2 linked regions of the Homo sapiens genome follow. Each later gene encodes a partner of the first gene's protein in a complex. Each region holds a gene or a part of one and is shown in the gene's direction. Other genes may lie near its edges.

What was found.
Region 2: the proteins of PELI1 (region 1) and MDC1 are in contact, whole or in part, in a crystal structure (PDB 9IF9), measured with the Homo sapiens proteins. Residues at the interface, in NP_065702.2 of Homo sapiens: Arg104, Ser105, Thr106, Glu107, Thr115, Asp116, Val130, Gln131, Ser132, Thr133, Ile134, Ser135, Arg136, Phe137, Thr185, Asn186, Thr221, Arg222, Ser223, Ala224, Cys247; in NP_055456.2 of Homo sapiens: Glu761, Asp762, Ser763, Glu764, Thr765, Gln766, Pro767, Phe768, Asp769.

What each region holds. Positions count from the first base shown.
Region 1 is NC_000002.12:64,142,413-64,146,160, reverse strand, and holds the start of PELI1 (E3 ubiquitin-protein ligase pellino homolog 1), read left to right. Parts: upstream 1-1,740; 5' UTR 1,741-2,080; intron 2,081-2,634; exon of another isoform or gene 2,635-2,843; intron 2,844-3,748. UniProt on the Homo sapiens protein: E3 ubiquitin ligase catalyzing the covalent attachment of ubiquitin moieties onto substrate proteins. Involved in the TLR and IL-1 signaling pathways via interaction with the complex containing IRAK kinases and TRAF6.
Region 2 is NC_000006.12:30,710,667-30,714,414, reverse strand, and holds part of MDC1 (mediator of DNA damage checkpoint protein 1), read left to right. Parts: intron 1-231; coding exon 232-612; intron 613-697; coding exon 698-767; intron 768-1,060; coding exon 1,061-2,541; intron 2,542-2,688; coding exon 2,689-2,748; intron 2,749-2,910; coding exon 2,911-3,003; intron 3,004-3,748. UniProt on the Homo sapiens protein: Histone reader protein required for checkpoint-mediated cell cycle arrest in response to DNA damage within both the S phase and G2/M phases of the cell cycle.

The sequences.
Region 1 (3,748 bases):
GTAACAGGTCCCATACATACCACACTCCATAGAGTGATCTTTCTAAAATGCCTATCTTATCAAAATTCCATCTGCTTACAATCCTTGTGTGGCTTCCCATTGTTTCCAGGAAAAGGTTCATGTTCCTTAGCATATTGTGCAAGATTCTTCATTACCTAAGCTGTCTCCCTTACCTTTTTCAGTGTCTCCTCTTGCCACTCCCCCAACTCCATTCTACTGCCAGCAATGCAACTATTTGCTGAACCAAAATACGTTTGGGTCTCACACCTTTAGGTATTTGTGCTTGATGCTCTCCCCAACACCACCCCCAATGCTCTCACCCACCTCTCTCTTCCTCCTCCCCTACCAAAATACACAAACATGTTAATTCCTAGTTATCTCAAGTGATCTTTGAAGCATTTCCTGATTTTGCCCACATCTGTGGGTAGCTTTGCATTTTCCTATTGTAGTACTTCTCAAATTAAGTCTATTTACCTGTCTCCTCCTTTGCATAGTAAGCACTCTGAAAATAAGAATGTTTCTTTTACATTTTTGTATCTCTATTTCTGGGGCTCAAAACAGTGCCTAGCACAAGTAGACACTCAACAAGCATTTTTTGAATGAGTGTATAATTATATAGTCTGTAGATATAAGGATTTCTGATCTTGAGACTCTCTGAAAGCCTTGCTCCAAAAGTGTGTCTGATTCCTAAGCATTAATCTTTTTCTTCCAGGGTGTGGGGTTCTAGGTAGGTGGAGAAGGAAAACAAAAGCGCTCAGGACGCGTTGCCTTTAGCTCTCCGGAGAGCCAGTAATGTGTCCTGCCTTTCTCCACCCTCCTCCCTACCACCTTTCCACACCTGGGTGCCCAAGATGGGTGTAGACTTAGCTGACCAGCCCAACAACATACTCATACCTTGGTTCAGACTTCTCTTATTACCAAACTAAAGTTGGCCAATACACATAAACAATTTTCAACTTGTCTTTTGAACGTATACTTTATGAAATTTGTATGTCTTAAAAATTGTAGGCCTTAAAATGAACGAACCCGGATTCTTTTATAGTAATCAAGTAAAATATAGGGGTCTTAATTCTGTACTTTGCCTTTGCTAATCTTAAAGTTAGATGTGACTAACTGAGCAAAGTAATTAATTACGGGACTTTGATAGTGGTGATATTCCTAAGTTTTATAACCTAATTGTTCAATTACTGGAAACAACTACATTTCGACAAGTCTTAGGTAAAGAAAATTGAATTTAGCCGGAGAAGATTCAATTGAGGGAAGTGAGGGACAGAGGTATTTGTGATTTAGGGTTTGTGGAAGATAAATTACGCAGCAGGGAAGACTGAAATATGGAGAGAAAGTCAGACCTCACTGGGTACTTATGACTGGTAAGGCTAGGAGTTGGAGGTGGAGAAAAGTAGGAAGGACCGTCTAAGGGTTGGATCCCCAACAACACCATAATACAAGACCGTCCTTGTTCAGCCAACAGCAGCACTGAACACGTTCGCTAAGTGTGTCGGTGACCATGGTAACGGTGGGAGGGGGCGGTCCAAACCTCGCCCTCGAGCATGCTCAGTGCAGAGCGAGCCTGGTAGGGTGCTGGACAACAATGAATCCCTTTTTTCTTCAACCGGAGAACTACAATTCCCAAGAGCCTTCTCGGTGCGGCGACACCGCCTTCCGCTGTGGCCCTGCCCGGTCCCCTCCCTCAGGCCCCGCCCCCCGGCTAGACCCCTCCCCTCCTTGCGAGTGTATGTCAGTGACCCAGAGGCGGTGTGAGGCGGAGGGACCGTCGGGGGGCGCCGCCGCCGCCTCCACTAGCAGCAGCGGCAGCAGCCCTAGTCCCGCGGTGCGGTCGAATTGGTCCCCAGCCCTCCGGGAGCGCACCACAAAGCAGCCCCAACGCCTCTCCCTGCGTCCGCGGCTCCTCAGCGCTCGGCTCCGTGGTCAACTTCCCCTCGCTGGGCTCGGCTGGCGGGCGCGGAGGGCAGCGGCGGAACGGCGGGCTGTCTGCTCGCGCTCCCCGCGCACAACACTTCACCCTCTCGCCTCGGGTCTCGGGGGCCGCTCTGGGATCCCGGCCACCAGCAATTGTCCGGTAAGTGTGACCGCGGGGCGCCGCGGGATGGATGGCGGCGGGGCCGCCGAGGGGCGCGGGGAGGGCGGGCGCGCAACTTCCTCGGCGGCTTCCCCGGCGGCCAGCAGCCGGCTCTCCCCGCCCGCCTGCGCGCCCCCGCTGCGGCGGGGAGCGGAGTTTGCGGCGCCTGCATCCCGCGCCCTGGCTCGAGGAAGCGCCTTTGTCAGGAACCGGCCCTACGCGGCCTCCCCCTCCGCCCGGGAGCGGGGCGCGCGGCGGCCAACTCCGAGCCCCGCGCCTGGCTGGCCGCGCGCTCCGGCTGCGAGAGGGGAGCTCTGCGGGTGGCGGGGAGGAGAGGGAAATGGGAGAAACAAAAGGGGCGGTGGGTTTCCCTTTTGTTTGTGCGGATCTGATAACTTCTTTTCCTCCCTTACATAACGCAGACTTCAAGTTAGTCATTCTTTTTATTGTTATGATTGTTGTCATCATCTCTGCGCGTCTTTCACATTTCCTTTCATCTTTGGATCTCAGAGCATTTTAAACACGCTAATTAATTTCACCCCCGGGTCCCCTAGGAAACAAGTTAATACGCCCGTTTCCCTAAGTGGGTAAACTGAGGTCGTGAAAAGCTCTCAAATTGATGGATACGCTTGATCTTCTACCGCGCCTCGTGTCTGAGTATATGAAAGCGTTTATGAGGAAGAACCCGTTCTCCAAAGCCCCGTGGAAAAGTTAAAGATGCTCATTTTACTTACAGGTTAACTGAAGTCCAAAAGATGTCTAGGTAATTGTTACGTAGTTCAAACCATAATTCTTCTTACATAGTGTTTGAATCTTAAAACCTCTAAAGACTTAGTGAAAAATGCTCCGAGTAGGGAAATTAATGTAAATCATAAACTCACGTCACCATCTACTTTTATTTTTGTACGTGCAGGTCTGTTAGAGGCAAGAGAGCAAGAAGGGGACAGAGGGCAGAGGTTTTTTAAAAATGTACATTTAACAGATTTTAATCACTACACACAAGGAAATGTGCCTTGGTTTTAACAGCACCAACAATATTCCTGTCGTTTAGTCATCAAACAGTATATCAACAAATGTTATTGAGAACTTTATTCATAAGGTGCTGGTTGTGCTAAAAACTGAAGCTTTATATATAAGAAAAGGTCATCTGTTTCGGTTCACAGGCTCTTTACTTTTTCTTACTCTGCAAAATGTTACTTTGTTTTCATTGCACATGATCTTTTGTTTCAGAAATGGCATTGTCCTTTACTGTGTCGAATATGTATTACTCTTACACTTAAGGATAAATGAATTTATTATTAAGTTTTCATAATAGGGTGAATTTAAAATATTTTAATTGTGGTAAAGGTTCACTTTATTCAGTTCTGTTTCAGTTTACGATGCGTTTTCTTTATAGCCAACAAAATATTTTCTGAGTGATAAGATTTACATGTCTCAAAACATTGTTCTTAGTGTACAAATACAGCATATGAATTCCTTGTTTTTTTTATTTATACCAACAACCTCTTCTGGGGAAAAGTCTTTAACTCTGAGGACCTTATTTATTTTGTGAGTTTTTATTTCTTCGGTACCATACTGGAAAGCACCAAAAATTTAAACCAAGCATCACTTCTACTAGCTCTTTCCTCAGGTAAATAATAATCAGAACTGTAGTAATAGTGAATAGTT
Region 2 (3,748 bases), on another chromosome or scaffold:
ATTAAGGTGATACATTTTGTGTTATGTGTATTTTATAACAGTAAAAAAACATCCATTGTGGATGGATGGGGTATCGCATATACTCTTTCAGTGCCTAGATGTCCTAGGGCCTTTTATTTTTCTAATGCATATGGAGGCCTTGAGTGAGTAGTAGAGTACCTAATAGGCACTTTTTCCTAATGACAGGCCAGGACTCTGATCTTGGAGCTTATCTACCTCTCTAATTCTTAGATTTCCCACTACACCTCGGGAAGAATGTGGTAGGCCGAATGCCTGACTGCTCTGTGGCCCTGCCCTTTCCATCTATCTCCAAACAACATGCAGAGATTGAAATCTTAGCCTGGGACAAGGCACCTATCCTCCGAGACTGTGGGAGCCTTAATGGTACTCAAATCCTGAGACCTCCTAAGGTTTTGAGCCCTGGGGTGAGTCACCGTCTGAGGGACCAGGAATTGATTCTCTTTGCTGACTTGCTCTGCCAGTACCATCGCCTGGATGTCTCTCTGCCCTTTGTCTCCCGGGGCCCTCTGACAGTAGAAGAGACACCCAGAGTACAGGGAGAAACTCAACCCCAGAGGCTTCTGTTGGCTGAGGACTCGGAGGAGGAAGTAGGTAAGTTTGTATATTGGCAGGGAGAATGAGGAGACAGGAATAATGAGTGTACAATTGTCAACTCATTCCTTTCTGTTCTTGACAGATTTTCTTTCTGAAAGGCGTATGGTAAAAAAATCAAGGACCACATCTTCCTCTGTGATAGTTCCAGAGAGGTGAGTGCCAAAGAGTCAGACACCTGAGTCTTCAAAATGAGGAAGAACCAGGGGCTGGAGGATCAATCTCTAAAAGAGATGATTATCATGAGAGTTGGGGCTGGGGAACCATACATATTCATTCACTCAGCTGAATTTTTATGGAGCACATCTGATGTGCCAAGTGGAAAACAAATTGGAAACAGAAGAAGAAATATGCTACCTTGTGTCTCCCCTCAAGGAGCTCACAGTTGAGTTGGGGTATCCCTTCCAGGGAAATAAATTCTATAGACTCTCTTTTCTTCCCTTCACAGTGATGAAGAGGGGCATTCCCCGGTCCTGGGCGGCCTTGGGCCGCCTTTTGCCTTCAATTTGAACAGTGACACAGATGTGGAAGAAGGTCAGCAACCAGCCACAGAGGAGGCCTCCTCAGCTGCCAGAAGAGGTGCCACTGTAGAGGCAAAGCAGTCTGAAGCTGAAGTTGTAACTGAAATCCAGCTTGAAAAGGATCAGCCTTTAGTGAAGGAGAGGGACAATGATACAAAAGTCAAGAGGGGTGCAGGGAATGGGGTGGTTCCAGCTGGGGTGATTCTGGAGAGGAGCCAACCTCCTGGAGAGGACAGTGACACAGATGTGGATGATGACAGCAGGCCTCCTGGAAGGCCAGCTGAGGTCCATTTGGAAAGGGCTCAGCCTTTTGGCTTCATCGACAGCGACACTGATGCGGAAGAAGAGAGGATCCCAGCAACCCCAGTTGTCATTCCTATGAAGAAGAGGAAGATCTTCCATGGAGTAGGTACAAGGGGTCCTGGAGCACCAGGCCTGGCCCATCTGCAGGAGAGCCAGGCTGGTAGTGATACAGATGTGGAAGAAGGCAAGGCCCCACAGGCTGTCCCTCTGGAGAAAAGCCAAGCTTCCATGGTTATCAACAGCGATACAGATGACGAGGAAGAAGTCTCAGCAGCGCTGACTTTGGCACATCTGAAAGAGAGCCAGCCTGCTATATGGAACAGAGATGCAGAAGAGGACATGCCCCAACGTGTGGTCCTTCTGCAGCGAAGCCAAACCACCACTGAGAGAGACAGTGACACAGACGTGGAGGAGGAAGAGCTCCCAGTGGAAAATAGAGAAGCTGTCCTCAAGGATCACACAAAGATTAGAGCCCTTGTTAGAGCACATTCAGAAAAGGACCAACCTCCTTTTGGGGACAGTGATGACAGTGTGGAAGCAGATAAGAGCTCACCTGGGATCCACCTGGAGAGAAGCCAAGCCTCCACCACAGTGGACATCAACACACAAGTGGAGAAGGAAGTCCCGCCAGGGTCAGCCATTATACATATAAAGAAGCATCAGGTGTCTGTGGAGGGGACAAATCAAACAGATGTGAAAGCAGTTGGGGGACCAGCAAAGCTGCTTGTGGTATCTCTAGAGGAAGCCTGGCCTCTGCATGGGGACTGTGAAACAGATGCAGAGGAGGGCACCTCCCTAACAGCCTCAGTAGTTGCAGATGTAAGAAAGAGCCAGCTTCCAGCAGAAGGGGATGCTGGGGCAGAGTGGGCTGCAGCTGTTCTTAAGCAGGAGAGAGCTCATGAGGTGGGGGCCCAGGGTGGGCCACCTGTGGCACAAGTGGAGCAGGACCTCCCTATCTCAAGAGAGAACCTCACAGATCTGGTGGTGGACACAGACACTCTAGGGGAATCCACCCAGCCACAGAGAGAGGGAGCCCAGGTCCCCACAGGAAGGGAGAGAGAACAACATGTGGGTGGGACCAAGGACTCTGAAGACAACTATGGTGGTAAGTGCTGGCCTTCCTTCCTAGACCTCTGAAATCAACCAGGGTTCTAACAGCTGGGGTTGGGGAGAGAAAGGTAGAGATTATTTAAGGAGTTTAGTGTCAGGTATGATTTTTGTTTTAAACTGTCTTATATTCCTCCCCGACCAGATTCTGAAGATCTGGACCTACAAGCTACCCAGTGCTTTCTGGAGAATCAGGGCCTGGAAGGTGAGGACTTCTGTGTTATTTGAATCCTGTACCAGTGGGAGCTGGGAGATTAGACTGGTGGTCCTTGAAGGGTAAAGGCTAGTATGGGTAGGGTAGGAGACCAGGAATGGAACCCTACAGTAGTATGGAGGAGATGAACTTAGGCCATCTTTTCCTGTACAGCAGTCCAGAGCATGGAGGATGAACCTACCCAGGCCTTCATGTTGACTCCACCCCAAGAGCTTGGCCCTTCCCATTGCAGCTTCCAGACAACAGGTATAAGAAACTCTTCCCTCCTCTGTGTCCCCAATTCTGCATTCTCTTTTTTTTCCTCTGTCACTCAGGCTGGATTACAGTGGTGCAGTCTCGGCTCACTGTAACCTCCGCCTCCCAGGCGGTTTCTCTTCCTTCAGCTTCCCAGGTAGCTGGGATTACAGCTGTCCATGACCATGCCTGGCTAATTTTTTGTATGTTTAGTAGAGACAGGGTTTCACCATGTTGGCCAGGCTGGTCACAAACTCCCGACCTCAAGTGATCCGCCTGCCTCGGCCTCCCAAAATGCTGGAATTGCAGGCGTAAGCCACTGCGCCCGGCCTGCGTTCTTTCTTGATTTGCCTTCCTACATGTTTCTTTCATACTCTGATTACAGTGAGCCCTCTGTGTATGCGAGTTTGCGTCCGTGAATTCAACCAGCTGCAGGTTGAAAATATTTAGGGACTGGCCTGGGCAACAGAGAGAGACCTGGTCTCCACAAAAATGAAAAAATTAGCCCAGCATAGTAGTGAGCACCTGTAGTCCCAGTTACATGGGAGGCCAGGATGGGAAGATCAGTTGAGCCCAGTCTGGGCAATAGCCCATCCCTCAACCCCCACCCCCAATGTCTCTTAAAAAAAACACACACACACTATTGCAGCACTGTTCACAATAGGCAGATATGAAATCAAACTAAATGTCCATCAACAGATGAATGGATAAAGAAAATGTAGGCCGGGGTCGGGCACAGTGGCTCACACCTCTAATC